Regions from separate parts of the Homo sapiens genome. Here region 1 is linked to region 2. The links come from fine-mapping of genetic effects on gene expression. A gene starts in region 2. The other region holds a variant in brackets. All regions are shown on one strand. Distances are between the middles of the regions. Region 1 overlaps HECA (hdc homolog, cell cycle regulator). Region 2 holds the start of HECA (hdc homolog, cell cycle regulator).

Region 1 (15,423 bases), 49 kb after region 2:
AAGTTTCGTGGAGGTTTGGGTGAGGGAAGTCAGCTTCAGCCGCTGTCTTAAAATCCAGGGGGAGGGGTTTCTTATTGTTAGGGAACTTCAGTGGAGAGCATTTAGGCAGTAGTAGTTTAGAATTTTCTTCTCATAAGTAGGTGAAACAGCTAGCAGTGCTGCATATCAGGAGAGAAGTTGGGAGTCTTTCAGGTATACCCCGTTTCCATGTTTTTGGTAGTAAAAGGGATGCTTTGCAAAGCCCTTGATCAGTTTCCCAGCATTTTGGTTTGGATGACTTTGACAAGTGTTGGGAAGTGGAGGGGTGTTGTGGCTGATGGTGTCTGTTTCCCCCAGGCCCGCCTGAACTGTAAGCACTGTGGGAAGCCGGTGATCGACGTGAGGATCGGGATGCAGTACTTCTCCGAATATAGCAACGTCCAGCAGTGTCCACACTGTGGGAACCTGGACTACCACTTCGTGAAGCCATTTTCCTCCTTCAAAGTTCTCGAAGCTTATTGATGAAAGCTTTGCTTTAGTAATAGCTATTTTATTGATATTATTACTTTATTACATATCTTTTATAGGGAAACATTCTGTGACATTAATTTCCTTTCTAATTTAAAGGAGAGTTACTTTGTTGTATGTGTGCCACTAAAATAGGGGCTGCCCTTGCCCTGTCTTGATTCCCGAGTGTTAATCTGTGGTTTTGACCAGAGCCCAGATGGGTAATCCTGTGCATTTGGGTTGGGGTTCACTCTTACCAAGAATCTTTGATGCAGCTTTAAGATGGTGGGGAGGATGGGGTGAATTTAGGAAAGGAATTTGTGGTTATAAACTAAGAGCTTGATAGGAGTTGGAAGGAAACTCTTACTAAAATGTTAACTTTCTAAAAACCTTCTTTTAGATCTTCCTTGGGCCTTTGGAAAAATATGTGACAAGTGAATGTAAGTCTGTGCCTGGAGAGCTAATAGTGCATTAGTCTATCTCAGCCTAGTGTTCTGCAGCACACATGGGCAGGCAGTTTACTCACACTGACAGGTGACCTGAAAGTGGCACAAGTGCTGTTTCTATCACTATTGTAATTTGCCAGTTCATTTTTCATGCTGAAAGTAATATCCAAATTGTAAGACATATGAAAGATATTAGTGTTGCAAATATGTTTAGGTAAACTGACCTATAACAGAATATGTGAAATGAATTTGGAAATAATGCAAGAAGGCAGAACTCAATCATTTAAATTGTGTCTTTGAAGTTGGTAATATAGCTTTTAAGGAGAACCCATGAATAACCTGATTTGGGCAGTGATGATTTATTACAGGTTGCACTGTTGAAGTGTCATTTGGTGTCAGGTTCTTCTCACAGGTAAATCTTTCAGCCACAGAATCTAACTGGTGAGCTTCAGAACCAATAATTGCCACATTTATTGTCCTCAAAATTGCTTATGGCCATGTATAACCAATTAATTCTGAGTTTCCAAAATCAAAGATTTGACCTTAAGAGGGAAGGGAAAAAAGTGTGAAAGGATGATGAAGAAAATAATTTTACTATTTCTTTTAAAAGTATGTTTTGGAAAATCAATGATTTTAATGCATAGCAGTATGTTTGAAAAATAGACCATTCTAAAAAGCCCATGATACCTTACTGTTGATGAAAAAGGATGATCATATATATAGAACTTGATTAGTCAGAGCATTGGGCATTCCAAAATACAGCCTTTGGTTCAGTAGATTTTAATGCTTTAAATAGACTGACGTCGCATACCCTTATAGAATTGGAATATGATTTCTCAAAAATTAATTTGATAATTTCATGTATGATGTGCATATATGCTAAAAGAATGCAGAAAATCATTTTATGAATAGCCAAATTTGGGGTTGATGTGAACATTTTATGTTACTCATTTGGTTTATACTTTTTTTTTTTTTTTTTTAACTGTGTGGTTTTTCTTTTCAGAAGTATTTAGGCAATATTGCACGTGAGTTTCAGTTCTTTTTTTCTTTTTTTTGAGATGGAGTCTCACTCTTGTCACCCAGGCTGGAGTGCAGTAGTGCGATCTCAGCTCACTGCAACCTCTGCCTCCTGGATTCAAGCGATTCTCCTGTCCCAGCCTCCCAGGTAGCTGGGACTATAGGCACGTGCCACCACACCCGGCTAATTTTTTGTATTTTTAGTAGAGACAGCGTTTCACCATGTTAGCTAGGATGGTCTAGATCTCCTGACCTTGTGATCTGCCTGCCTCGGCCTCCCAAAGTGCTGGGATTACAGGCGTGAGTCACTGTGCCTGGCCAAGTTTCAGTTCTATATGAAGTATTTGATGTTTTGTTTGAAACAATACAGCATTAAAGAACCAATGTTATTCACTAATATCATTCATCTTTCAGTTTGGATGATTTGGTTTGCTGCATCTAGGTTGGTGTTTGATCATCTGAAAAAACATTTCAGTGGGAAGAAATGCATAAAATGCCTATAAGAAGTAGAAAGTCATTGAACTGACAGTGTTTGATGCAACTAAAAGAGGATTGTAAGACATAGCTTTCTGCAAACTTGTCTTTAATGCACAAAGCTGTAGTGGTGAATTAACTATCTCCTTATTGATTCTCTCCTGTACCCAGATGCAAAAAGTGCTAAGTTTCTCTTGTCCTCGTAATACCATTTGGATTTTATTTCTGAATTTAAATAGTAAAATATTTATGATGCTGATCTTTAACCCACCTAAAATTTTATAGTGAAACCTGCTTTATATTGTTGTTCTGAAGCTTACAATTGACCTATACATTGCATTCAGCAAGCTCCTGAATTTAGAACTGCCGTCAGTGTAGTGTATGCTGTGTTCCATGTTGCCTTTTTAGATGGCTTTCTACCCCCTGAACAATAAATAGGATGAGGTTTTACTGTAATTGGGTAAAGTTTACTCTTGGACATTATTTCGATGCTAAAGTAAGGATTCTGTGGATGTTACTTAAAGAGAAAAGCATAAGAGCATGAAGCATATCTGGGAATATCTTTTGCCTTTAAGACGATTCATTCTTGTCTAGAGGGAAAATCTGGCTGATTTGGGAATAAAATATAATCGAATATTCAACACCATGAAGATAAATCTTATTTTGGAAATCTACTGACCTTAATACCCCAAGCTTGCCCTGAATACTTTGATTGGAATTGGAATATATCAAAAAAGGTTAGTATTTTTGTTGTAGTTAGGATACTAAAAGGATATTAGTTACCCAAGAGATCCAATTTGTTTTTCTGATGAATAGTGTTCAGTAAAATGAAGCAGTCTTAAGAGTGACTAATAATTTCAAAGTGATTTTTCGTCTATTCTTAATATTTTTTAATTATTTATTTTTAAGAGTTTTATACCTTGAGCAGATACAATGATCTGCTTTAGTGAGAGGACAATTTCTGATTGATTGTTTTCTCTTCAGGCCATCTCACCTCTTCATTCTCTTGTTACATTTGAAGCAGTTGATATAATGGGTTTATACTTTAAAAGATAGACATGGTGCCATGAAGTTGGGGAGTTGGGTGAATTATCCCATTCTAGTTACAGAGGAGCTTTCCTTAAATGCCCTTTAACTTCTAGGTTTTGTTCAAGAAGTTCATTTTCTGAGTAAAAGGTATTTTCATATATGTTGGGGGAAAATTAACTCATCTAAAAAGAATCTTATTAGGTATTTGAACTCTAAAACTAACAGATAAGACAGATATGTACCTTATTAGAGCACCAGAACTAATTTGCTAAGTCTTTTGTTTAGTCCTGCAAGACTGATGCTTAATACACAGTCTGTTCTCCTGTGTCTAGGTCAGGAACTCCAGTTTGCTTTTCTGTTTTGTGTCCTGGTAGCAGCTGTTGAGTAACTTTCATTGGAGGTTGGGAAGGAAGTGAGGAGAAAGTGTTCTTGTTTAGTGTTTTATTTCCTATAATAGGATGCTGCCTAACCCAGTTCATCTCTATGTCCTGTTCACTGAATATTCCGGGTAATTGAAAGAAAATATAATGGATGGGCTCCATTAAAACCAGCTCAAAAATAAATTCTTGTCAGTAAAGATTTCTTGTCAAGATGTCTTGGATTGCACTTTTGTTGAGGAAAGACAGTGTAAATAGTTAAAGAATGTTGATAAAATTGAAACATTTGGTTGTGGAATTGTGTGTGGTTTTAGAGGGTTTCTGTTTGTGAAATGTATGTATTAAAAATAATAAAATTCCAGAAACTAACATTGTACTCTGTCTTTAGTTTGTCACTTTATTTTTCATTGAGATTTTTGAGCAGTGGGATTGTCTGGTCAGAAAAGATGAAGAGAAAGCTTTCTGAGGTTTTGATCACTATTCAGGTAACCATTTCAAAGTCACTCCTGCAGCTAATAAAAAAAACTGCCAACTTTTTTGCTGCTTGCGTCATGTATCACATGTAAACTCACTTTGCAATAAAAGCTTTCAGTATGACAAAGTTGATTCTATACGAATAGTCCAAAATTATCGTTCCGGTTTTAGGGAATTCTATTATTTGATAGATAGTATAGTGTTAAAGATTAGATAGACCCCCAAGGTCAACCACCCATAGCCACATAGCCAAAACTTAAGTCGTCCTGATTTCCCTGAAATGCTAGTTCTAATCAAAACAAAATGCAAGGCCTTGTCGGCATGATTTGGTGAAATCAAACTTACTAGCCATACAGTAATCCCCCCTTATCTGCTGTTTTGCGTTCTGCAGTTGTTTCAGTAACCCATGGTCACCCTAAATGGAAAATTCCAGAAACAATTCACATAGTTTAAATTGTGCACCATTCTGAGTAGCATCATGAAATCTCAAGTCCTGTGCCATCCTGTTGAGCAGGCGAATCATCCCTTTGTCCAGTGGATCCATGCTGTAGACGTCCCACGCCTATTAGTCACTTAGGAGGCTGCTAGATGAGTCCCGGTATTGCGGTGCTTGTATTCAGGTCACCTTTATTTTACCCAAAAGTGACCCCAAAGTGCAAGAGTAATGCTAGTGTACTCATACACTTGTTCTATATTATTACTAGTCATTGTTAATCTCTTACTGTGCTTAATTTATAAACTTTATCATAGGTATGAATGTATAGGAAAGGTCTTGGAAAGGATCCCCTAAGGATAAGGGAGTGCCTACTGTGTAGACAAATCAACAACTGGTCTGCTTTCCTTATAAAGAATGTTAACATGTAATAGCCAGTTATAAAAGAGGGTGAAAATACTTTCTCCCTTATGCTTTATAAATGGTACTATAACTGCTGTGTGCAGACTTCTAACCATTTTGGTTTGAGGTCTCCAGGTTTGCCAGCTGTTCTTTTATGTGCACAATAAACATACAATTTTAAAATTTGATCTGATTTTATTTTTGACAATAGATTATTCCACAGATGCTTTTGTTTCCTAGGCCTGTAACAATTTTCATCATGAAAAGACTTGATCGTATGCTTCTTCATTATAAGCAAAGAAGTCTAATTGAACGTCTTGCTGACTTCATATACTGTGATCAAGAATAGTTTATCCTTAAATCTCCTTGTCCTCTTCAATTCAAATATCATTCTTGGCCAATAGATTGAAATCCACAAACATTAGAACACAAGATAAGTTGGGGAAACCTGGGTAAAGAAAGTCTTGAGTCTGCCAGTGGATTCAAAGCCTGTGTTGCTACTTACTAATGCAGATGTCTGAGGCATAAATTTGACTTTATTTAAAGCCTTATAAAGGACTTGGGATATGATTTCTACCAATGTAATTTATGGTCAGCAAAATTCCTTTGAAATTTTAAGGAAGGTACAGTTCATACTGTAGAAGGAAAAAAGTTGCAGAAAAAAGAAGTTAAATGGTGATTGGTAAGCAATTAGTTTAATGGAAGAAAATTGTTACTTCTTATTGGTGGTTTCCATTACTTTAGATCTTGCTTGTATTGTTTTGACTTAAATTTGGCAAATTCAGCAGCAATTAGATTGCTAATTATCTAGGCTGTTTAGTAAAGGGTTAAATTTTCAAAGGGGGAAGAAATTCTTGTCTTGAGCTTTTCTTCTTTTTCTGTTCTCTCAACTCTGCAGTGAGGTAAACCTTACCTGCTGAATGTGAACTACCTTTGAGGACAATAAAGTGCTGTACAGATGTAATATTTGAAATAGTAATGTATTTTTAAGGCATATTTTTTCTTTAGTAGAAACTTTTAGCATTGTGGTAATTATATTAGCTCTACCTGGCATTGCTAAGCCTCAGAAACAGCAAAAGTAAAAATAAAGCAGTTTGTCTCATGAAGTTCAGTAAAACAACACTGGTTACATTCATCAGTGTTCAAATGGAATTGGCTACCGTAGCACCATTTCTTGGTGATGAACACCATCTCAGGCGGTTCTGTTACACTTGATTAAAAATTTAGATATCTAAATCAAGCATAGAACTAATTGTAATTCCTAATAAACCCAGTTATTCTAAGAGTGAGAAAGTCATAGCCAAAACAGTCATAGAATTTAGACGTGTCAGAATTTGGAGCAAGGGCTATGCTTTTTGTTTTACCCACATGGTAAATGTTTGTGAATTTCATTGACAATTGTACTCATTTTAGAGGTAAACTGAGGCCCAAAGAAGTTAAATCTAAGTAAGTTCATATAGTTAATGACTAACTAGGAATTAAATCTGGATTCCCACTCCTAGTCCTCAAAGTGAGATTCGGTAACATACTCAGCTAGCTAACTCTTGCTCAGAGGTAGAGAATTCATGAACTTTCTTCGGTTTTCCCTTCTGTTTTCTGTTACCACTTGCATACTGGCCACCTTTAGCATATTAATTGTCAGATCTGGACATTAGTAGTCTGAAGAGATCGTTGCCAGTTGTGCATGTTACTTTTGAAGCTGTTTTAAATGTGAACTTTAGATCCTGAAGTTAATTTTTTTGTTGTTGCTTTCATTTGGTGTTTACTGATTTCATTTTCTGATGCTAAGGGTAACAAATTGGGGGGCCTATATGAATGGCACTTAGACTCTCTGTAAAGGAAAGAAAATGTCAATTACAGCCATGTACACTTTTACCAGATATGTTAATAAGATATCTAACTTGATGTTGACTAAAGAAAAAAATAGCAACCTTTTAAATAATTAAAGGTTGTTTTATTCAGAAGTCTTACTGAAGACTGTAGGCTGAGGCCTGTAGCCCAGGAGCAGCCTTTGAGAGAGGTTCTGCCAGGCTGCTCCAGCACAGATACTTCAACCCACTGCTTATATACAGATGCTGGAGGTTCGGTACGTGCAAAATCACATCAGAGTTTGGGTTTAAGAGTACATCTAGTTGTAGATTACAGAAGCATAATCACTAAGCCTGTCAGACATTATATGTTAGAAAACACAAGGACTAGGGTCATTTATCTTTTAAAGAATATAGTGACCAGGCAAGAGACTTGGAGGACCGTCTGCTAATACTGCACTGTCCTCAAAGCATGCTTTCAGAGAGCTGCACATTGTTGTGGAGTCAGCGCTTCGTGAAATTATGTTAGCAAGCAGAAATGAGCAGACATGGCTGCTTATGTTTGCTACTTTGTCTCCTACGAGGTTGGGTGTAATACACAAACATGGAAGGAGAAGTGTCTGGACATTGTACAGAGCAGGGAGTCCCCAGAAGTAAGTGAGAGGAGCCTTGTGGGTGTGGAAATTACAGATTTGCTCAATATATGTATCAGTGGATGGGCACCTTGTTTTCAGTTGAGAAATAATTTGGGCTTGTGACAAGGGAGTAGATTTAAAAGCTATAGTAGCCCTTGCTTCAGCAACACAGGCGCCAACATAGAAGTAATTCTGTGAGGCCTAGCTGGGCCCTCTGCATAGGAGTGATGAGCACATTGGAAGCATCCCCTATTTTAGAAAAAGAACACTTTCTCAAAGGGAAAAAATTTGAAATCAATAGTTGTGTCTTCACCTCATCTTTTAATGCATTAATTTGTTGACATCTGTTCTCTTTTGTTAAGATAGATGATTGCTTAAGGAGAACTCTGGGTATAAGGTGACGTTTTCACAGTCTACACCACGAATTCATCATTTTACTCACTTGGGGATCTAGCTTTGAGTTATTTTTGGATTCAAACATGTCAAGCTGTCGGATTTGATAGCATTGATCTATCCAGTTTGGGCAGGGTTTTCCTTTTTGACTAACTTTTCTAACAGTTCCTCTAGGTGTGTTTAATTTTCAATTTCTCACAATCTTGTTAGAAGCTCTGGTATCCCAGACTGTTGAGGGTTGCTTGACTTGATCAGGGTTTATTGGAGTTCCATATAGTCTTGGAAAAAGTGCTGGTTACATGTTTCTCTTAAGGAATGACAATTTTTTTATGGTTTAGGGGCTGTCCCTTGCTAATTAGCAGTATTCTAAGTTACTGCCAAACCATTGGTTGAATAAGCGCTTTATGCCTTTTTGTTATTTTCATCACATTAACAAATTGCATATTTTTCTGAAGCTCTGATGACACTGCAGGTGATTGATGAGGGAAGTAAAGCCGGGTGAAGCCTATAGGCTTGCGTTCCTCTGAGGCTCCAGAACCCCATGGTTCTGAAAAGAGAATGATTTGGGCAGGGAGTGGGATAGTGGGAGTCCTGGGGGCTACTGTGCATATTTCAGAAAACTTAATGGAGATCACAAAGTTACCCACCACAAGGCTGCACAGGATACCTAAAAGGTCAGTTTACTTTTGGCAGGAGTTACTGCAATCTTGGTTATCAAGCTGCTCAGAAACACTGGCAGTAGCATATGCCTTTGATGAATAATATATGAAAACAAATGAATTACCTAATAAATGCAGTTCACTTTAAAGACATAAGTTTTCAAAACACAGGATAGAGTTGTGGCCGGGTGCAGTGACTCAGGCCTGTAATCCCAGCGCTTTGGGAGGCC[G/T]AGGTGGGCGGATCATGAGGTCATGAGATCGAGACCATCCTGGCTAACACGGTGAAACCCCGTCTCTACTAAAAATGTGAAAAATTAGCCGGACGTGGTGGTGGGCACCTGTAGTCCCAGCTGCTCGGGAGGCTGAGGCAGGAGAATGGCGTGAACCCGGGAGGCGGAGCTTGCAGTGAGCCGAGATCGCACCACTGCACTCCAGCCTGGGCGACAGAGCGAGACTCTGTCTCAAACAAAACACACAAAAACATAGGATAGAGTCATACTGGGTTAAGGGTGGTCTTTGGTGATGGGAAAATGCCATTTAAAAAAATGTCCTTCACTTTTTTTCTAGTCCTTTTTCTTCTACCTGTTGTGATAGTTTTGCCTATCTTACTTATCCTTACCTGCCTATCTCTCTCTTTCCTACTTTGTCCTTTCTGTTGCCCTTCCTGTTGCAACAAGTTTCTTAACCATCAGGATATAGTAGAAGCTCCTTGACAAACCCAGACATTAGTTAGTCAGCAAATCAAAAAAGAAGTTAGTTGAGAAAATAATTACCTACAATCAGCAAGAAGATCAACAAGTTGACCCTATAATCAGTTGATTTTCGGCAAAGGTACAAAGAGAATTCATTGAATAAAGGATAATGTAACAAATGGAGTTGGAACAATTTGATATCCATATGCAAAAATATATAAATAACCCAATCTGGATCCATATTTACACCATATTTTTAAAACTAACTCAAAATGGATCAGATGTAAAATCCAAAAATGGATAGATTAGATGTTATTAAAATTAAGAATTTCTCAAAAGATACTGTTAGGAGAATAAAAAGACAAGCGCCACAGACTGGAAGAAAAGGATTTGTATCCAGAATACATAAAAAGTTCCCCCAAAAAACATTTGAACAAACACGTTAACAGAAAAAGGAATGATGACACATAAGGTACTCAATATTGTTAGTCATTACGGAAATGCAAATTAAAACCACAATGAGGTACCACTTCACACCCATTTTAATGGCTGAAATTAAAAAGAATATCAAGTGCTGGCAAAGATATGAAGTAATTGGGACTCTATTACACTGCTGGTGGGACAGTTTCACAGTTTTCTTAAAAAGTTAAACATGTGCCTAACCTATGTCCCATCCATTCCACTCCTGTGCATTTATTCAAGAAATGAAAGTATATGTCTACCCAAGGACTCATTCATGAATGTTTGTAGCAGCTTTGTTTGTAATAGCCCCAAAAAGAAACAATCCAAATACCCATCAACAGAAGAATGAACAAAATTGCAATATGCAATTGCAGAGTACTACCCAGCAATAAAAAGGAACAGATTCTTCATACATGCAACACCATGGACGGACCTCAAAATAATTAAAGTGAAAGAAGCCAGAGAAAAAGACTACACCCTGTATGATTCCATTTATGTAAAGCTCTAGAAGATGCAAATGAATCTGGTGACAGATTGGTGGTTGCCTGGAGATGGGTGGAGGAATATTAATGAGAAGAGAAAGAAAATGATTGCAAAGGGCATGAGAGAATTTGGGGGTGACTGATGTGTTCACTGTCTTGATTGTAGTGATGGTTTCCCAGATGTAGACATCTGTCAAACTTATTAAATTGTATACTTTAAATATGTTTAGTTTATTCTGTGTCAATTATACCTCCATCAGCCAGAAAAAAATACCCTCTTCTCCCCCCTGCACCTCCCTACCCAGGATAACTTGTATATCATAAACATTTTATTTATATTTAAATCAGTAATACACTTTCATTTGACAGATTTGGTTCTTTAGACCCTCTAGTTGTAGGACTACACTTTCTTGCAAACCTTCATTTATGATGCACTGTAAGAATGCTTCCTATTTGGTTCTCTTTAAAGTGGAATTGGAACTTAATGACACATGAGAAATACTATAAATATAGAACCTCTCTAGACTTGTAGGATTTCCATTTTTTAAAATCTTTTGCTTTTTTTTCCCCATGTTTAATTCAGTATTTTGTGTATATGATTTGCCTCATCTGCTCAAAGCATCCTACTGAGTTATCAAAACAGTATTTTTTTTTTATAATTATATTTCATTGGTTTGTGCACTTTTTTATTAAATTACATCATTGCAATGGCAAACGTAACTGTGGCATAAGCAAGTCTGGGAATAAACCTGAGTAACTTTTGGTAAGTACAGAACTCTGCTGGGGGAAACCATATGCAGATGGTGCCTGATAGCGAGGAGGCTCCCAGCTGCCAGCATTCATCTGGCCGAGGTCATTCATCATAGTGTGGCTTTACAAAGCAATTTAGAGGCAGTTAATTGCTGGATTGGTTAAGGAAAGGTTGATTGAGAGAAGATTCTACTGCTCAAGCTCGTTTAAATCCTTACTTCCCTCACCTGTAAATATTGAGTCCCTACCTGGGGGTGTTAAATGAAATCATTAAATTAAGTGTTTATTGCAGTCACTGGCATGGAGTAAGTGCCAAAGATGTTCCGTATTAGGATCATTTATGTTATTTCTGGAAGCATTCTTATGTTAGGGCAAGATTGTCTGACTCAACACTTATTTTACCGATGAGGAAAATGGCTCAATGTTTGATGGCCTTTTCCATCACCAACCAGTTAGGTGGTAACCCCTAAGAAAGCTTCCCAGGGGCCTTCTTACTAAGAGGCTCCTGAAGAGTTCTCTAATAGCAGTGGAGGAATTGCAGATCCTGTGTCATGGATACAGGAGCTTCTGAGAGTGGCTTTACTTTATGTCTCTCAAATCGATGGGTGCGTTGATGGAAAGGGAGATAAAACCAGGCCTCAGTGAGGCAGTGAGATGAGAAGAGGGTTGAGAAAGTTGTGCAACTGGCAGGCAGATAAAATCTGTCTTAATAAGGATGGATAGAAATTTTGTGACAGCCGTATTTGTTTTTTCCCTAGTTGGGTCAGCTTCAAACTGAGACCTGTGCTCAAAAACCTATTTCTTCTTTGGATGGAAAAATGATCCATTTGTTTCTCTTATCTAAAACAGGATCTGTGATCTACCCTAACATGAAATTTTAAGTGTAGATTATTTTTAAAAAATCTAATCGAAATTCTGACAAAGCATTTGACTTATAAGGTTTGCATTTTTGTATTAAGAATTTTATTGAACTGAAAAATTTCTGAAAGAGAAATTTCACTCCCAACGTCTCTCATTTACATTTTTGTTAGATTTATTAATGCATATGTAGCACTTTGTATGTATGCCGGGAAGCAAGAGCTTTTTGAAAAATTGTGTTGGAATCTCAATTGTTTTCCAGATTTCTTTTTCTTTCTTTCTTTCTTTTTTGAGACGAAGTCTTGCTCTGTCGCCCAGGCTGGAATACAATGGCATGATCTCGGCTCACTGCAACCTCCACCTCCAGGGTTCAAGCAATTCTCCTGTCTCAGCCTCCTGAGTAGCTGGGATTACAGGCATGTGCCACCATGCCTGGCTATCTTTTTGTATTTTTAGTAGAGACGGGGTTTCACAACATTGGCCAGGCTGGCCTCAAACTCGTGACCCTCAGGTGATCCACCCACCTCAGCCTCTCAAAGTGCTGGGATTACAGGCGTGAGCCACCATGCCCGGCCCAGATTTCTTTAACCTCGTATTCTATGTAGGTGGGATATAACCTGTGGTTCTTTGGAATTGGGGTTTTAACAGTAAGCAATCATATGATGTGTAGTGTAAGAAGCACTAATGTTTTATTACAGCTTTCGGGGTAAAAGCATTGCAAAGGAGGTGACAGGCGTATTCTGTTGCCCAAAAGTTTATGATTTCTCTTTTGATGTTTTTCATGTTGCATGTTTGGATTTGCATTAGTTGAAAGTTCTAAGAAAATATCTAGCAAATTAAGCTACATGTGAAAGCTTTATTCAAAACTGCTAAGCATTAAAATTCAAAAGGATGATTTTATCTAAGAAGAATATTTAAAATAGTCAAATTAGTGTTTTTTATTATTAGAACTGCCTCTATATTGAGGTTAGAGCAAGTACTTTGGCATTTAGTTTTCTTGGTTTATGTGTAATTTTAATTAACAAGATATTAATTATGAGTCTGAGGATTTCAGAATTTATTATTAAACCCAAAAGAAAGGAAATAAGAAAGGTCTGAAATAAATGGAGTTCTCAACTTGTAGAGATGTGCTCTTTTTGAAAATACAAACTTCCAGGTCAGATTTCCAGTTTGGGCCAAGGAAGTAAGCTTTCACCTCTTCAAAGACAATATTGTCTTTGCAGCTGTGGAGGTTTGCGGGGAGAGAGGTCAGAGCCAGATGAAAACAGTTTTATAGGATCTATGTCAGCATTTAGCAAGGTTGATCTTGTCGGGTATGAAGTCACTCAGATGGGGGATACAGAGATATTGCTAGCTGTTGTACTATGGAAGTCACGTGATGGGATTCCATGTAAATGTCACTCCAAGTAGGCTCTCCTCTAGGGCAGGGACTGTCTTTGACAACTTCTATCCATAATGCCTACTATAGGGCTGTGCCCATTAGCTGTCTGTCAAACAAATGTGCTGGCAGCTGTGGGGAATTCAGACAATTTTCTTTCCTAGTTTTGTGTTTTGGGTGCCTACTTCCTTGGGGATTCCTTTCAGAAAACCAAATGTCAAAATATTAACAGTAAAGAAAATACCTGGATCATAAGAACTGCCTTCATATCTTACACATTTAGAATAAAAGTGATTCTTAGTCTGTTCAGGCTGCTATAACAATACCTTAGACTGCGTAACTTATAAACAACAGAAATGTATTATTTACAGTTGTAGAGGTTGGGGAGTCTAAGATCAAGGTGCCAACAGATTTGGTGTCTGGTTGAGGGCCTGTTTCTTTCTTTCTTTCTTTTTTTTTTTTTTTTTTGAGACAGAGTCTCGCTTTATTGCCCAGGCTGGAGTGCAGTGGCACGATCTCAGCTCACTGTAACCTCCACCTTCTAGGTTCAAGCGATTCTCCTGCCTCAGCCTCCCAAGTAGCTGGGACTACAGGTGCCCACCGCCATGCCCAGCTAATTTTTGGTATTTTTAGTAGAGACGGGGTTTCACCACATTGGCTAGGCTGGTCTGGAACTCCTGACCTTGTGATCTGCTCACCTCGGCCTCCCAAAGTGCTGGGATTACAGGAGTGAGCCACCACGCCTGGCCAAGGGCCTGTTTCTTATAGATGATGTCTTCTAGCTGTGTCCTCACATGGCAAAGGTGTGAACAAAGCATACTTGGACTTCTAAGGGCACCAAACTCATTCTGATTAGATCAGAATCCTGATAATCTAATGACCTCCCAAAAGGCCCCACCCCTTCTGTTGTTTTTTGCTTTTGTTTTTCTCTTCTTTTCACAGGTGTTGAAGGTCCCACCTCTAAAAGCCATCACCTTGGGGCTTAGAGTTTCAACATATGAATTTGCAGGAGGAGGCACAAGCGTTCAGACCATAGCAGTGCTCCTGTGTGGGATTATTTAAGTAGTTAAGATTAAAAAGTTAGAAAACGTCAGAAAAAGAAGACACCTTAAAAATCCTGTTTCCCAATCCCTGTACTGTATAGAAAGGGGGACAGATACAAGAATTGCTTAGAATCAAGACCTCTAGAGCTGTGCCATTCAGTACAGCAGCCTAGCCACATACTGCTGTTCAAATGAAGTTTAATTTTTTTTTTTTAATTAAAAATCCAGTTTATCTGGCCAGGCGCGGTGGCTTACGTCTGTAATCCCAGCACTTTGGGAGGCCGAGATGGGCGGATCACCGAGGTCAGGAGTTCAAGACCAGCCTGACCCACATGGAGAAACCCCATCTCTACTGAAAATACAAACTTAGCCGGGCTTGGTGGCACATGCCTGTAATCCCGGCTATTTGGGAAGGCTGAGGCAGAAGAATCGCTTGAACCTGGGAGGTGGAGGTTGCGGTGAGCCGAGATTGCACCATTGCACTCCAGCCTGGGCAACAAGAGCAAAACTCTGTCTCAAAAAAAATAAAAATAAAAAAATCCAGTTTATCAACTGCACTAACGATATTTCAAGTTCTCCGTAGTCACATGTGGCTAGTGGCTACCATATTGGACAGCACCCATTATACAACGTTTCAATTACTAGAGAAAGTTCTATTGGACAGTGCTGGGCTAGATTTTTTTCACCAAAATCTTTCCTGTCCTCTGTGAAAACCTTAATGAGTGGGTTCCTAATTATTAGCCCTTAACACTGTTTCACATATTTCAACAAATGATTTAAATTTAGAAACAATGTATGGAATACTTCTGTTACTTATTCATTTTTGGTTATCCTGGGTGTGGGGCGGTGTACCTGGGAGACTCAGGGAGTTGTGTTGAGTTCATTCAGACATCAACAGCCTTAAATAAGCAACCACAGGGACGCGAGACAGAATGGAAAAGGGCGCACTTGGCCTCCTAAGAAACACAAGGCTAATTTCAGGTCTGTGTCAAGCGAAAGTAACTTCCCAAAGCTGGAGTTCCTAACATCCCTGCTCAATTTATCCTCTTCTGTGAGCAGCTAAGCATACAGTTAATTCATTTTTTAATAACCTAATATTAATGGCATTTTTTTGAGTTGATAATC
Region 2 (15,423 bases):
CAATTGCACTTTTGCTGCATTTCTAATTGGTCAAAGCAAGTCACAAGGCCAGGTTAGATTTAAGGGGAAGGCAAACAGACTCCACCTTTTGAAGAGAGGAGTAGCACATTTGTGTTCATCTTTAATCCATGCAGTGCTATGTTTGCATTTAAGGACTTAGAACAAATATTCTGCAGGAGGAAAGGAAATCTTAAGACAAAATTCTATTCGAGATTGATTGAAATGAACTCCAGAACCATACATAGCAGTACTTATTACTGGACTAAATGTGAAACTGATTGTTCATGTGATGGTAAATTTTTGTTACCTATAACAATTACAGCATATTTGAAGTTTCTTAAAATGGAAGCAATACCATGAATGTTCAACTGTTTACATCATTTAGAATTAGTACTTAATGTATTATATCTTCTGACAGTTTCCGTTTTATAGTTTTGAAGATATTTCCCAAGAAGTTTTCTAAAGAACTGGTTGTTTACAAGAGGGATCCAGTATCTGTCTTTTCACCATTGTATCAATACTCACCTGATTGCTAGTGCCAGAAGTAGATTGTTTTCTTTTCTTTTTCTTCTTCCTTATTTTTTTTGAGATGGAGTCTCACTCTGTCGCCCAGGCTGGAGTGCAGTGGCACCATCTGGGCTCACCACAACCTCCGCCTCTCAGGTTCAAGAGATTCTCCTGCCTCAGCCTCCCGAGTAGCTGGGATTATAGGAGTGCACCACCACACCCAGCTAATTGTTATATTTTTGGTAGAGATGGCGGGGGTGGTTCACCATGTTGGCCAGGCTGGTCTCAAACTCCTGACCTCAAGTGATCTGCCTGTCTCAGCCTCCCAAAGTGCTGGGATTACAGGTGTGAGCCACTGTGCCCAGCTAGAAGTAGATTTTTGTTGTTGTTGTTCCAAGGCATTATTTCCCCTAAAAATATTCAGCAGGACTCTACTTCCGTAGAATGTTAATAAGCATTACATGTAAAAGGATTTATAGGTTATATACATTTGGGAAATTCTAAGTTGAGAGTAAACAGGTTTCTTTACTGCTGGACTTTTAGGATCTTTACTATGCTAATATATATTGTGACTCATACAATATACAGTGTTTCCTAGACTTATTTTACCACAGAAATAGAGGCACGTCTTATATAACTAGTGTTCCTCAGGATATTCTTGGTAGAAATCATTCCAAGTAGAAATAAAGGAGGAAGCTGAATCTTGAGAGAAAATTCTAGCCAAGATCAATCAAAATTAACTCCAGAAACAAGCAGAGCAGTAGCCTTAGCACTTAGAAAAAAAATAGGTGTTCTTGAAATAGATCCTCAGATCCAACAATGAACTAACTACACTGATTGTGTTTGTTCTAAAAGTCAATAGTTCTTTAACTACAGAGGCCTGAAACACTTAAGCCAAAGATCTTTTGCAAAAGTTATTGTAAATTCATGAAATTTTATCATCCAAGATCATCAAAGATTCATTAGTTGAAACAGCAGTGTGGAAAGGAAGAACTGGAATAAGGTCTTAATTTTTCCATGCTTTTTATCTTATAAACTAAACTCGAAGCCCTTGAAAATGAGAACTTAGAGTGCAAGCAGTATATGAAGATATTTGTGGTAGGTAGTTTCTAAGATGGTTTGTTGTTGTTGTTGTTGAAACAGAGTCTCACTCTGTCGCCCAGACTGGAGCGCAGTGGCATGATCTCGGCTCACTGCAACCTCCACCTCCCGGGTTCAAGTGATTCTCCTGCCTCAGCCTCCCAATTAGCTGGGATTACAGGTGCGTGCCACCACGCCCAGCTAATTTCGGTATTTTTAGTAGAGACAGGATTTCACCATCTTGGCCAGGCTCGTCTCAAACTCCTGAACTCGTGATCCACCCGCCTTGGCTTCCCAAAGTGCTGGGATTACAGGCGTGAGCCACTGTGCCCGGCCCTAAGATGGGTTTTAATGATCCCCATCCCTTGGTGTTCATGCCCTTGTGTAATTTCCTCCACCCAAGCTTTGGCTAAATCTGATGACTTGCTTCCAAGAAACAGAGTACAGCAAAATGATGGATGTTACTTCTGAGATTAGATTACAAAAAAGATTGGCATCTGTCTTGTTTACTCTCTCATGCTCCCTGTCTTTCTCCCTTGGATGAAACCAGCTGCCCTGTTGTGAGCTGCCCCAGGCTGAGGTTTCTGTGGTAAAGAACTGAGGGGAGGTCTGGGGCCAGCAGCCCACAAGGAATGTTGAATCCTTCTCGCAACCCTAGGACTGAGTTTGGAAATGGATCCTCCCCCAGTTGGCTGACTATAGCCTTCTGAGGACTCAGCTAAGCCATCCCAAGATTACTGATTCACAGAAACTGTGAGATAATAAATGTTTGTTGTTTTAAGCTGTTAAATTGTGGGGTCATTTGTTAGGCAGCAATAGATAATTAGCACCATATTAAAAGAGGCATTTAGAGAGGGCCAATGTTGTATTATCTAAGTCAAATCTTGCAGACAGCCTTCAGAAGCACTGTGGTTAAGTCAAGCTTTAGAATGGCAGAATAGAAAAGTGCTGATTTTAATTGGGCATAAACATAGGGGATATTGATAAAAACTAGATGACAAAAATCTTTGAGATTTCAGTGACACTCCAGAGGAGATATCAGAAATACAAGGTGTAGAAATGGATAATTCCATGGCCACTGCAATTGCTGATGAAGGTATTGCTATTATAGGGGTTCTTGTTATACAAATCTAGACCAAACTGAGCCATCCCTTTTTGGTTTAAATATTATGCTAGCTGAACATAAAAATGTGGTTTTAGAAGAATTCTTTTTTTCTTCATGAGATCTGGCTCAAATTATTCTTTTAGGTGCTCCTCTCCATTCTCTTTTATTGAATGAATATGTATTAAACACTTAACTATATGCCAGGCCCTGTTTTAGGTACAGAAGATTAACAGAGAAATCCTCACCCTCTTGAAACTTGCATTCTAGTGTGGAAGGACAGACAGTAAACAAAGTTAATAAACATAAAAATAAATCTCTTAGGCCGGGCGCGGCCTCTTAGGTGGCTCACACCTGTAATCTCAGCACTTTGGAAGGCCAAGGCGGGTGGATCTTAAGGTCAGGAGTTCGAGACCAGCCTGGCCAATATGGTGAAACCCCGTCTCTACTAAAAATACAAAAATTAGCTGGGCATGGTGTCGCAAACCTGTAATCCCAGCTATTCAGGAGGCTGCGGCAGGAGAATCACTTGAACCCGGGAGGTGGAGGTTGCAGTGAGCCGAGATTGTGCTACTGCGCTCCAGCCTTGGCGACAGAGCGAGACTCCGTCCCAAAAAAAAAAAAAAAAAAAAAAAGTAAATAAATCTCATGAAGGAAACGTTCTTTCGGGTTTACTGGGGCCTAAGATAGTATTGATGCTGAACTGGGACAATAGTATGAGCAAGGAAGGCACAGAGGTTCGAGTAAGCAGCAAGTTCAGGGATCACTGAAAAAAATTCTGACCCTTTTTTATGACTGCTTTTATAGATTATGAAAATAATGTAAAAGTCACAACTAAAGGATGGAAAAGAGATTTTAAGGGCAAATATTTGAGAAAAATATTAATATTGGTAATCGGGAACAGCCTAAAGGGAGAGTAGATCTATGGAATTTATTAATCAATATTATTATTTGCTTTAATATTCCATTTTTTCAAAGTTTTTATAATCACAATTGTCATTATTCCTCAAAGAAAACCTGTGGCCATAGGAAAGGCTATTTGCAGAAGAAAAAACTGATGCATGAAGACAATGCATTGCTCCAGGTGTATTTATTTGAAGTGACTTTTTAGCAGATCAGGCTTTAGTACCTTTTAGCTTATGTTTCAATTGTGGACATATTCTTGTGTGCATTACTGTGTTATCTGCAGAATTCCTTCTGAGTTCCAATATGATTTTTTCGATCAAGGTGTATTTGGATATTTGGCTTCTTACCTATGTTCTAAGTTTTCAATTATCCTTAACACATATATTTTGTACTTTAAACCTAACCAAACTTAGCTGACCCCAAGAGCTCAGAAGACAGCCACAAAATGTCAAATGAACAAAATTAGGGCACTGAAACAATGACTGCTTATTCCAGTTCAGCCTGAAGATTAGCCCACCCCTTTCTTAAGGGTGTAAATTGTTTGCTTTTGATGCCCTTGATTTGTTGCTGTGCTTTATTTTGTTTTCGCAGAGAAGTGAGCAATAGGGTGGGTGAGGTTTGGGGGAAGGAAACCTAGGATAGAGGTATAATTTTTTTGAAGTTTATATCAGAGCATGAGTTGATCAGGGAAATTGAAGAATGAGAAGGCAAGTGTAGATGTACAGAACAGAGTGGCTTCCTCAGTTCCTTGGAGTTCTTTATACTTCTGGAAGTTTCTAAGGGGAATGTTCCATTGTACCATCTGCCACCTTTTGTCTTTTGGTATGCTGTCTCTCTCTCTCACCTTCAGAAATGGTGGGAAAACGGCTAGGACAGCAGGATAGAACATAGGAAATGGAGTCCTTTAACTTCACCTACATTTTGTTCCTAACATCTTGATTTTAGTATATTGTCTTTGTAGCAATAAAATCGGAACTATTGCCTCTGCACCAAATTTGACTAAGGCTAAAAATAGATTAGCGAGGTTGAGCATGGAAGAAGTGGCAAGCTTCTCCTTCCTCCTTTTCATTTTGTTTCAGTTTGAATAGAAGGAGGTAGCTCACACAATTAACCAGAACAGCAACTGGCTGGATGTCTGGGTGCTTTGAGCCAATTAGGATATTTTTGTGGAAAGTTTCCAATTCTTAATTCTCAGTTATGTAGAGGTGGGAGGCAGCTGGTGTGAATGTCTGTCTGCAGGGTACATGCATACTAACTCTGATCCAATATGGCATGACAGCAATGTGCTTATTCAAGAAAATAATTATCTCAATTTTCTTGTACTCTAACCTAAAATGTCTTCGCCTTCACGACTTAAAAAAACAAAACAAAAAACCAGAAAAAAAAAAAGAAACGCCAAAGCTAACATCACCCACATATTTTGAGACCTCTAGTGGTATCAATAATGAAATTAAGCTAAGTCTGAATGGGCAACAGTAATTCATTATCTTCCTCCACGGACCCACTGCCCTCCCCGGGAAGTCTCCCTTTAATTAACTACCTTCATCATTTCTTCTGATTTTCAGAATTTCTTGACTTCACTCTCTCTTTCACCCCTCATTTTTGGTGTCCAAGTGGCCACCAAAGCAATATCCCAGTGTGTAAGCTGCTATGGTGAGGAAGGTGCAGGGAGTATCTGGGGACAAGTCTAGTTTTGGGTTGTCACAGATTTCCTAGAGAATTGATGATTTAGCTGAGACTTTAAGGTTCAGAATAATGTAGCCAGAAGAAGAGTGCTTTAGGTATCTTCCATGCAACAAATTTTTATTGAATACTTACTGTGGGTCAAGGTTTATGCCAGACTCTGTAGCGTTAGAAAGCTAGGCACAATCCCTGCTCTCTTAGCACCTAGGGGATTTCAAGGTTGGGGAGAAATAGACATGAAAATATAAGCACAAAATATCTATCTATCAATAGGGCCTTCTAAAGGGTCACTATCCTCTAATACATATTAGGGAATTTAAAATTTCAACTTTTTTTTTCTACTAAAGAGTCCAACCAGCAATTTCCCCTGAGTATCCAGTGCTTGCTCCTTCTTGCCGTTCCAGGCTCTGTTATGCATTCTGCTATGGTTGCCCAGAGCTCGCAATCAGAATCTCCTCTCCATTACCTGAATGTGGGGGAGAGTATTGTTTCTTGTACTTTCCTGTCTATCTGTATAGTTCACAATGAGGCAGAGAACAGAGTCTGGAGGCAGGGAACCTAAGGGCGTTTCACCCCACTTCCTAAACTAAATTGAAAGGAAAACCCTAACTTTCCACACCTGAGTAACAAAAGGACCAGAAGCTGCTCCCTTTGCAAACCCTCACCTTTTCTGCGTGGCAGATGGGAAACTGGCTGTCAGCAACCAATGAGACTGATTGCGGGTGGAGTCTTTGCATAGAAGTGCAACTTTGTAACTTCACCTTAGCCTCTGATTGGTTGCTTTTTAAACAGAAGTGTGCAAAAAGTGTGATTGCACAGAAGTGTGACCTTTGTTAACTCCACTTCAGCCTCTGATTGGTTGACGAAAGCAACCAATCAGACTAATTGTGCGTCACCACTTCATTTACATGAGAAACCTCCAGGGGGTATTTGGACCTCAGAAGATTCTGCATCCGGAACCTTGAGCCACCGCTGGGGCCGCTTCCATACTGTGGAGTGTACTTTCATTCTCAATAAATCCCTGCTTTCTTCTTTCCTTGCTTTGCTGGGCGTTTGGTCCAATTGTTTGTTCAAAATGCCAAGAACTTGGACGACTTGCAGTCAAGACCCTCTAATGGTAACAACAACACCGTGACAGAGCTTTTACTAAAGGGCTGAATTAAAGATTACACTATAAAAGGGGAACACTGTAAAGCTGTCAGCTAAACTAGTCTTTCCTCCACAGTTCGTGAGGAAGGAACCTAATTTATACATTCAACAAATTTATGCCAGCTGTTCTCTGATGTGCCCAAGGCAGATAAAATCTATCCATGGAGGTTTCATTTCAGTGAGAGGGAGATATACAAGAAATAAGTAAACACCTACATTGCCAACATAATTAGAGATGGAGGAGGAAAATAACAGGGTGGAACTTCTGACAGCTCTCCTGGGAAGGTCTCTGTGGAAGTGATGTATTTGAGCTGAGACCTGAAGGAAGGGAAGGAGTTGGCCGAAAAGGTAGAATAGAATTGCAGAAAGAGATCAAGGGGAGCTCTTCCCAGGGGTCCCCTGCCCTCATATTGCCTGTCTTCACTGGTGTCACCTAATCTCCTACTGCTCATAACCTGGCTACCTATCTTTCACTATCTTTCAGGACAACTCAGCCCTATGCATAGGGATGGGTTCCCCCCAAGCAGGGACTGCTTCAGAGTCCAGGCAACATCTAGTTACATCCCTGGATGATGGGTCTTGTTTGAGTGAATTGTTTTCACCACCAGACTGTGAAGGCTTCCCATTCAGGACCCTGGTGTTCATCCCCATTGTCTGGGAACTCTACCCTGTTTCTTTCTTTCTTTTCTTTTTTTTTTTTTTTTTTTGAGACAGAGTCTCGCTCTGTTGCTCAAGCTGGAGTGCAGTGGCGCGATCTCGGATCCCAGGTTCAAGTGATTCTCCTGCCTCAGCTTCCCGAGTTTCTGGGACTACAGGCGCACGCCACCACGCCCAGCTAATTTTTTTTTGTATTTTTAGTAGAGACAGGGTTTCACCACGTTGGCCAGGATGGTCTCGATCTCTTGACCTCGTGATACACCCGCCTCGGCCTCCCAAAGTGCTGGGATTACAGGCATAAGCCACCGCGCCCGGTCCCCTGTTTCTTTAATTACTGTTACTGAAAGGCATAGCCTTTGAATGAGTTATTAATCCAAAATCTTTTGTTTTCCATTCTTGCTCTAGTCACAGCTTATTTTTCCAGACCATACTGTTCTAAGCCTCAATTACATTAAGGCCAGGAGGCCACCGAAGAACTCCACATGCCACTGCACTGGCGGGTGGAGCAAGTCAAGCAGGGCAGCTCATGAACGCCCGGGAGTCCAGGAGGCCCGGGTGGGGACGCCTGGATGACGTCACTCGAGGTGGGCAGGCCCCGCGCGGGGCGTGACGTCACGCGGGCGGTCCCGTCAGCCGTGAGGTCACCTGGTGGGCGCGGCCAGGCCGAATCCCCAGTGTCGTCACGGGAGGGGGCGGGCCCAGAGCGTGTCAGTGCAGCCGAATCAAAACAAGCCGGAGACCCGCCTTTTCCCTCCGGCTCGGGAGCGTCTCGCTTGCGCCCCGGGCCCGCGGCGCCCGCGCGGCTGCGAGCCTCGGGTGGCCGCGTGCCGGCTCCAGGAAGCCGGAGAGGGCGCGGCGGCCAGGATGGCGCGGCACGGGCCGTGCGGCTAGACGGGAGCCGAGGGAACCGCCGGCTCGCGCCCTCCGTTCTTTCCCGGAGCCGGCTTCACGCAGGGCCGGGAACGGCCGTGCCTCTGGGATCCGCCTTCGCTGACGCCGGGCACCTACCTGGACGCGAGCGAGCGAGATGCCCAACCCCAAAAACAGCAAAGGCGGCCGCAAAAACAAGCGCGCCAACAGCAGCGGCGACGAGCAGGAAAATGGAGCCGGGGCCCTGGCAGCGGCGGGCGCGGCGGGAGCGGCGGCCGGGGGGGCCCTGGCGGCGGCGGCCGGTTGCGGGGCGGCGGCGGCGGGCGCGCCGGGCGCCGGAGGCGCGGCGGGCGCCGGAGGCGCGGGGACTGGCGCCGCGAACGCTGCGGCCGCCGCGGGGGCTGCGGCCGCGGGCGATGCCAAAAACGGTAAGACGGGGCTGGCGGGGCGAGCGCCAACTTCCTCCCCGACGGGGACGGCGCGGTGGCGGGGCCCTGGGTGGCGCGGGCGGTGCGTGGACAATGCGAGAGTCAGGAAGTGCTCACCCCGCCCCTCCGCCCCGCCGCGGCTGCCCCTTCGCGGTCCCCACGCCTGGCGGCGGGGACAGATCTGCGGCCCCTGCCCGGTGTCCGCGCGGGGGGCAGCCCGCGCCCCACACTCTGAGGGGCTCCCGGCTGCGGCAGCGCTGCCCTCGGGCCCAGCCTGCTGCCCGCGCTGGCACTGCCCCGCCGTGTGTGCCGGGCCGAAGGGAGGAAGGAAGGGAGGAAAGAGCCGCCCAAGTTGAGAAGAATGATCCGATTGAAAACTTAGGCACCGGTTAATTCTTCCCGGTGCTCCAAGGCCACCCGTAACCCCCGGAATGAAGGAGAGAGAGCCTCAATTCTTAGCACACCCAGGCTTGCTGCGTCGATCGCCACAGGTGAAGAGGCCTCGAGACATTTAGGGCCTCTGTGTTTGCTCTTTAATTTTTTGGCTTGCTTGAGGAAGGAAGAGAATCTGAACTTGACTTCCGTTCTCAGCCCGGAGTTAAAAAAAAAAAAAAAAAAAGAAAAGAAAGAAAAGAAAAATCATTCTCTATGTCATTGTGCTTAACATTTTCAGAAGGAAGCCTCATAATCTTAGGTAGTGCCTGAATGTTCCTTTTGAGGGGACACTTAGGAACTGGCCCAGATGTGACAGGATTTCTGTTCTCATTACAGAGCCATGGTTTTCGTTATAAGGTGCTGGGCAAACACTTACTTATTTGGACAGTTCTTTGAATTCCTCTAGTCAGGCACTTTTTCCAGGAAGACAACGTAGGTATTTTAATGAAGGGAGATTTGAATTGTTATATCTGGCTTTTAATTTATAGCGTCAGCTTTTGAAGCCATTCTTTATGTAGATCAGGCACTTTTTTGTTTTGTTTTTTTTTTTTTAGACGGAGTTTGCAATTTCGCCCAGGCTGGAGCGTAGTGGCGCAATCTCGGCTCACTGCAACCACCGTCTTCCGGTCTGAAGCGATTCTCCTGCCTCAGCCTCCCGAGTAGCTGGGATTACAGGCGCCCGCCACCACGCCCGGCTAATTTTTGTTATTTTTAGTAGAGACAGGGTTTCACCATATTGGTCAGGCTGGTCTCGAACTCCTGACCTCGTGATCCGCCCGTCTCGGCCTCCCAAAGTGCTGAGATTACAGGCGTGAGTCACCACGCCCAGCCAGATCAGGCACTTTTTAAACAGGGCACCTGCTCTTACAAGCAGCGTACAGTGCTCTGAACATAGGCGGCTGAATGTCGCCTGTTAGAACTGTAGGCCCCGTTGGCTGTGTCTCTGCAATATTGAAATAGGAAGATTTATTTATTTATTTTCAGAAACAAACTTACCCCGTTTGTGAATGTTTCAGAATACTAGTTTTGGGTAGCCTGTGTTCTTCATGTTCTTTTGTTTTTCTCCTGGCTTTAACCTTCATTTTGGTATTGATGTGGCAGAGAGAAAGGTGCTCAGACTCTGGGTAGGACAGACTCCTAGCTCAGCCATTTAGAGCTTCATCATCTTGGAAAGGTCAGTCTTCCAGAGCCTCAATTTCCTCATGTGTAAACTTGAAAAAAAATTACCCTGGCTCCCTCCTAGTGTTATTGAGAGGCTCAGAGTGCCCCTTCCCTATTATGCTCCCAGTTCTTGTTATTTTAAAGGTTACATATATAATGAGCTTAAAGTTTCTCACAAAGAGTGCATGAACAATGATGACAGCTTTCGTTTATTCATTTAAAAAAGATTACCTGCAGTGTTGCAAGTACCGTGTTCAATACTAAGGGATCCAGCGGTAATCAAGACGAGACATCCCGGTCCTCAGGGAGCTTGCATTCCTGTTCTGGTGGTGGTTTTGGTTTGCTCTGCCCACCCCCCTACCAGCTCCTTTTTTTTTTTTTTTTTGGCCTATGTGGAAGCTTCAAGTTCACAGTTTCCTTTTTTTTCTTGCTCCAAAAGATTAGTCCAATTTAAGGTGGCATGAGGAAATTTTTTTCTTAGGCTACTTGTACCTCCTAGTTTGTACATAACAAACTGGTTAAGGGGCCCCTATTATTATTCTCTGAAGTGGCAGACTCAAGTATATTTAGCAGCACAGTGTATGTGAAGAGCTGTTTCTGATTAGGAGCTTATTTTATTAAGTGAAAGGCGGGGAGAAAAAGGAATGGGCCAACATTCCCATAGTCAGGGTCAGAGGATGTAACTTATATTAGAGGAGTGAGCCAAATTTTATGATGCCTGATTCTTGTTTCTGAAGTGATGTGAAGTCTTCGTGAATGATTCACCTTAATGTGAGGAACCCCCCCTCAGTTCTGCAGTTGATGATAACTGAACTTGGATGCTGAGGACTCCTGGGTGCAAAATCAAATGCTTTTTTCTTTTCTTTTCTTTCTTTCTTTGTTTTTTTCTTTGTTATTTAAAGCTATAGTTTATAAGGTAGGGGTTTGGGAGAGGCGTTACTGGTGAATTTTTAAAGAGGAAGGGGCAAGAGATGCGTAAATTCTCAAAATCAACTAAGGACCAATATTTGGATTTTTAATGTTAAAGTTATTATCGGTAGTAGTTTTAAGTGTATTTCAATTTTTTACTTAACTGTGACATTAGATTTTGTAATTACAGAAATTACAAATCAAGTAATTATTACAAGAAAGGAGGTACTTGATATTCTTTGAAACTTGTAAATAGTTTTTCACTGTTCAAGTCAGCTATCTACATCTGCAAACATGCAAACTTAATGACTTCGCTTAAAATTAATAGTGTTTATTTGTAGTTGTTTGGAGTTTATAGAATGGTTTTGTGTCTTGTAGCTCTTGGGCAGTGCGGCCACCAGAGCAGGGCAATATTAGCTTTTAGTTGTTCAGTTTGTCAAGTGGGCATAAATAAATACTTATTCTGTAAAGGAAGATTACTAGTTACGGAGAGCTTGGGGAAGCCGCGGTATAGTTGTGGTTGGAGAAGATGAACTGGCTGCAGTTGTGCATCTTGAGTAAGTTTAATATTAATTCTTAGGATATCATACCGCTAATAAGACATTTATTAGATACTAATTTTAAGATACTAGTTTATGAGGCTTATTTTTCAGGGATTGGTGTAAAAGACCACCCCATCTTTTTCCTACATAGTAATCTGTCTGCACATACCATTTGCATTTTCATTGCAGGTATACAAGATTACCAATGGTTATATTTAGAATCTAGTTATCAAAAGGTAGATACGTAGTTTCATTCTGGTTCCATTAGGCCTCTACATTTTTATATCAGGCCTAAAAATATTTGAAACCTTGATCATAGTATATCTAGTTTTCATTGGGCCTGGATCTTAAGTACTTTTATAAATTCCTGTTATTGGATGACCATGGTTCATCACTCCACTCATTCCTTACTGCCTCTAGAACCCGTGGGCAGCAGAGTCTGCCTTAATTCATGGAACTGTTTCTAGCAGATGGAGTTCGTTTGCATAGAGATTGGCTTTCCATTTGGTGGACCTAGATTCAAATCCTGGCTTCTCAAATTACTTGTCAAATGACCTTGGGCAAGTCATTTAACTTCTCTGAGCCTTGGTTTCTGCTTTGTAAAATGGATTGTAGTACCTACCCATACAGATGTAGTAAAATATCTGTATCTATCTATTAAATATATTTAAAATAAATAGATTACATACATTAGATAGATTAGAACAGTGTCTGACTTACAGTACCAGCTTACGAAGTATTAGCTGTTTGTCTTAGATCCTGGAAATAGCCTGAGCAGAGATACACGTGCTGGAGGTTACTGGAGAGTGCTCTTGGCATCATTCCTAGTGGAGGAGGGAAGGAAGCAGGATTGGGCAGAAGCAGGAGTTGAACTGTGATGCATCTGTAACAGAGACCCCAGTTGATCCTCTCTTGGGGGAGCTCTGGAGGTGGGATGGCCTTTCTGAGTTATCTCACCTTAAATAATAGGGGCAGGGCCTTCTACACACTCCCCCAACTCCCAGTTGACTGGTCATTTGGACTTGGGCTCCCCCCAGGAAGAGAGCATGACCTTGAGGGTGGCATCTCTTTACCTGGAAACCCTTTATGGAGAGGGACTCTGCTGAGAAGCTTCAGCTCTGAGTGAAAGGAGAGCCATTCTTATTCCCCTAGCATTATGGATGTCTTCATTTAGACCACCAGTACCATTCACATAAAACACAGGTGTGGGATAAATATTTCTCACTAACAACTAAATAGGCTTTGTGGAGGAGACTGGGAATTAACCACCATTATAACAGTGTTTCCATGGGAAAACGCATTCTGAATTCCATATATCTGTTGACAAGTAGATTTTTTTTGGAGTACCACCTGTTCCCTATGCACAGGATTTGTATTTTGCTGCATATTTAGGCCACTAAAGACACTTTTTATAACCGAGGTTTGTAGTATATTTTAAATAGTTTCTTTTTAGATGTTTACTTTAATTCCTACTACATTTAAATTACCTATATCCATCAGTAGGAAAATGAAAAATGTTTGCTTGCTGTTTATTTTCAAATCAAGGAATATCTGTTGAGGATCTAAGGTATATAGGTTACCATTATAATCTTAGAAAACATTTTCTTGCCTTATCTAGAAGTCAGTTTTTTGGGTCTCAAGAACTATTTGCCTTTGGATGTTGTCTTTTGAAATCCACCTTTTTAGTGGAGATTGGCAGAAAATATTGCCTCATGCATCAAAGATTCTTCCTGTACACTTCGTGTATTAAAGTGAAGAGCTCTTCTGTGCGCCGTTCATGGTGCTCTATGCGCAGTCTCGTCTTTCTCTCATTCTTTACTTGTTAGAGGATCTGTGATCTGTCCTTAAGTTCTAGAAACTAAACCTTCAATGTCAATTTTCCTGTAAGTCCAAGAATATATTTCATTCCATGGAGAATTGAAAACGGGAGATAAAACGGGAAAATCTCTTGCAGCTTAATCCTCCTATGAGTTTACTTCAGGCTTTTAGCTATGAATAATTTAAAGAACTTGAAGGTACCAGAAGAGATTCTTTACAGAAAAAAATCTGTCCTAACTGATTTTGATCAGCAACTCTTTGGCATTTTTGTTTTTTGAGATGGAGTCTCGCTCTGTCACCCAGGCTGGAGTGCAGTGGCACTATCTCGGCTCACTGCAAGCTCCACCTCCCAGGTTCACACTATTCTCCTACCTCAGCCTCCGGAGTAGCTGGGACTACAGGCACCCGCCACAATGCCCGGCTAATTTTTTGTATTTTTAGTAGAGACAGGGTTTCTCCGTGTTAGCCAGGATGGTCTTGATCTCCTGACATCGAGATCCGCCCACCTCGGCCTCCCAAAGTGCTGAGATTACAGGCGTGAGCCAGCGCGCCCGGCCCTCTTTGGCATTTTTAAGGGCTTTATTTATTTGAAAATATTGTGTTATTTTATTATTTTACCAGTAATGAAATAAGCATCTTAGAAAAGAAGCTTTCTTTGCCTTTCTGGTTAAACACATAATTCCACCACTTAAGAGATCAACATTATTAATATTTTGATATATGTTCTTGCAGCCTTAAATTTTTTTTCTCACAAAACTTTTAAAAGTACATATATAGTTTCTGCAAAAAGAAGATCATATATTTTATAATCTGATTTTTACACATAGAATAGTTTGTGGACATTTTAGCAGAGCAGTAAATATACAGGTGCATCATCATATGTCTGCACCTTGGAAATTTGATCATTCCACTATTGTTTACCTTTAGGTTCTTATTTATATATTTCTGGGCATTTGTCCACTTAATTACTTCATGTGTTAATTTGTTTCTGCTGCCACAACAAAATACCTCAGTGTGGATAATTTATAAACAATAGAAATTTATTTCTCACAGTTCTAGAAGCTGGGAAGTCCAAGGTCACAGCCAGCAGATTCTGTAGTTGGTGAGAATCACAGCATCCTCACATGGCAGAGAAGGTGAAAGGGATGAACTTGTTCCTTCAAGCACTTTTATGAGGGATCTAATCCCGTTCATGAGAGCCCTCATGGCCTAAACACCTTCTTTTTTTTTTTTTTTTTTGAGACAGAGTCTCACTATGTCACCAGGCTAGAGTGTAGTGGCTTGATCTCAGCTCACTGCATCCTCCACCTCCCAGGTTCAAGCGATTCTCCTGCCTCAGCCTCCCTAGTAGCTGGGACTACAGGCACATGCCACCATGCCCAGCTAATTTTTTTTTTTTTTTTTTTTTTTTGGACATGGAGTGTCGCTCTGTCGCCCAGGCTGGAGTGCAGTGGTGTGATCTCGTCTCACTGCAAGCTCCACCTCCTGGGTTCACGCCATTCTCCTGCCTCAGCCTCCCGAGTAGCTGGGACTACAGGCACCCGCCACCACACCCGGCTAATTTTTTGTATTTTTAGTAGAGACAGGGTTTCACCACGTTAGTCAGGATGGTCTCGATCTCTTGACCTTGTGATCCACTCGCCTTGACCTCCCAAAGTGCTGGGATTACAGGTGTGAGCCACTGCACCTGACCATGGCCTAAACACCTTCTAAAGGCTCCACCTCATAATACTGTTGCACTGGGGATTAAGTTTCAGCATGAATCTTGGAGGGACACAAACATTCAAACCACAGCATGTACTTAGGAAAAATTCTTCCTGTGGACTTGCTATATCCAAGGATTATGCATATTCTCGTGACTTTTAATACATGCTGACAGATTGCCCTATTGAAAGGTTGTACCAGTTTGACATTGCTGTGGTCAGAGTGCTTTTCCCCATGGTCTCATCATTCCCTGGTTGTTTTAAAGGCATGCTGGAGAATTGCTCAGCAAATTCTCCAAAATGTCTCAGCAACTGGAGGGCCCCATTTGCATCCGGAATTTGGAGCAGATGCTGTCGTACATAGGGGGACTTTCCAAGGCTGGATGTATTTCTGTTTTTAAAACAGAGATTTTAAAAAGTAGTAATGGTGGCCAGGCAATGGTGGCTCACGACTGTAATCCCAGCACTTTTGG

The links. PIP is the estimated chance that this variant, and not a neighbour inherited with it, causes the effect. A credible set is the group of variants that fine-mapping cannot tell apart.
Region 1: its variant is the best candidate, but not a certain one, in a credible set for the expression of HECA in nasal epithelium (TOPMed, PIP 0.51).

Annotation. Positions count from the first base shown.
Region 1 is chr6:139,176,605-139,192,027 of GRCh38, forward strand. It overlaps HECA (hdc homolog, cell cycle regulator), which reads left to right. Exons shown (of 4, transcript NM_016217.3): 4 at 337-4,198. The coding sequence ends at 501. It also overlaps a transcript of TXLNB not described here. Among named protein-coding and RNA genes, the nearest start is that of HECA, 49 kb to the left of the region's middle. The variant G/T (reference allele first, on the strand shown) is at 8,864.
Region 2 is chr6:139,127,286-139,142,708 of GRCh38, forward strand. It overlaps HECA (hdc homolog, cell cycle regulator), which reads left to right and starts at 7,795. Exons shown (of 4, transcript NM_016217.3): 1 at 7,795-8,382. The coding sequence starts at 8,112. RefSeq lists enhancers at 6,259-6,308, 7,587-7,881, 8,747-8,866 and silencers at 7,587-7,776, 7,887-7,966, 8,367-8,636.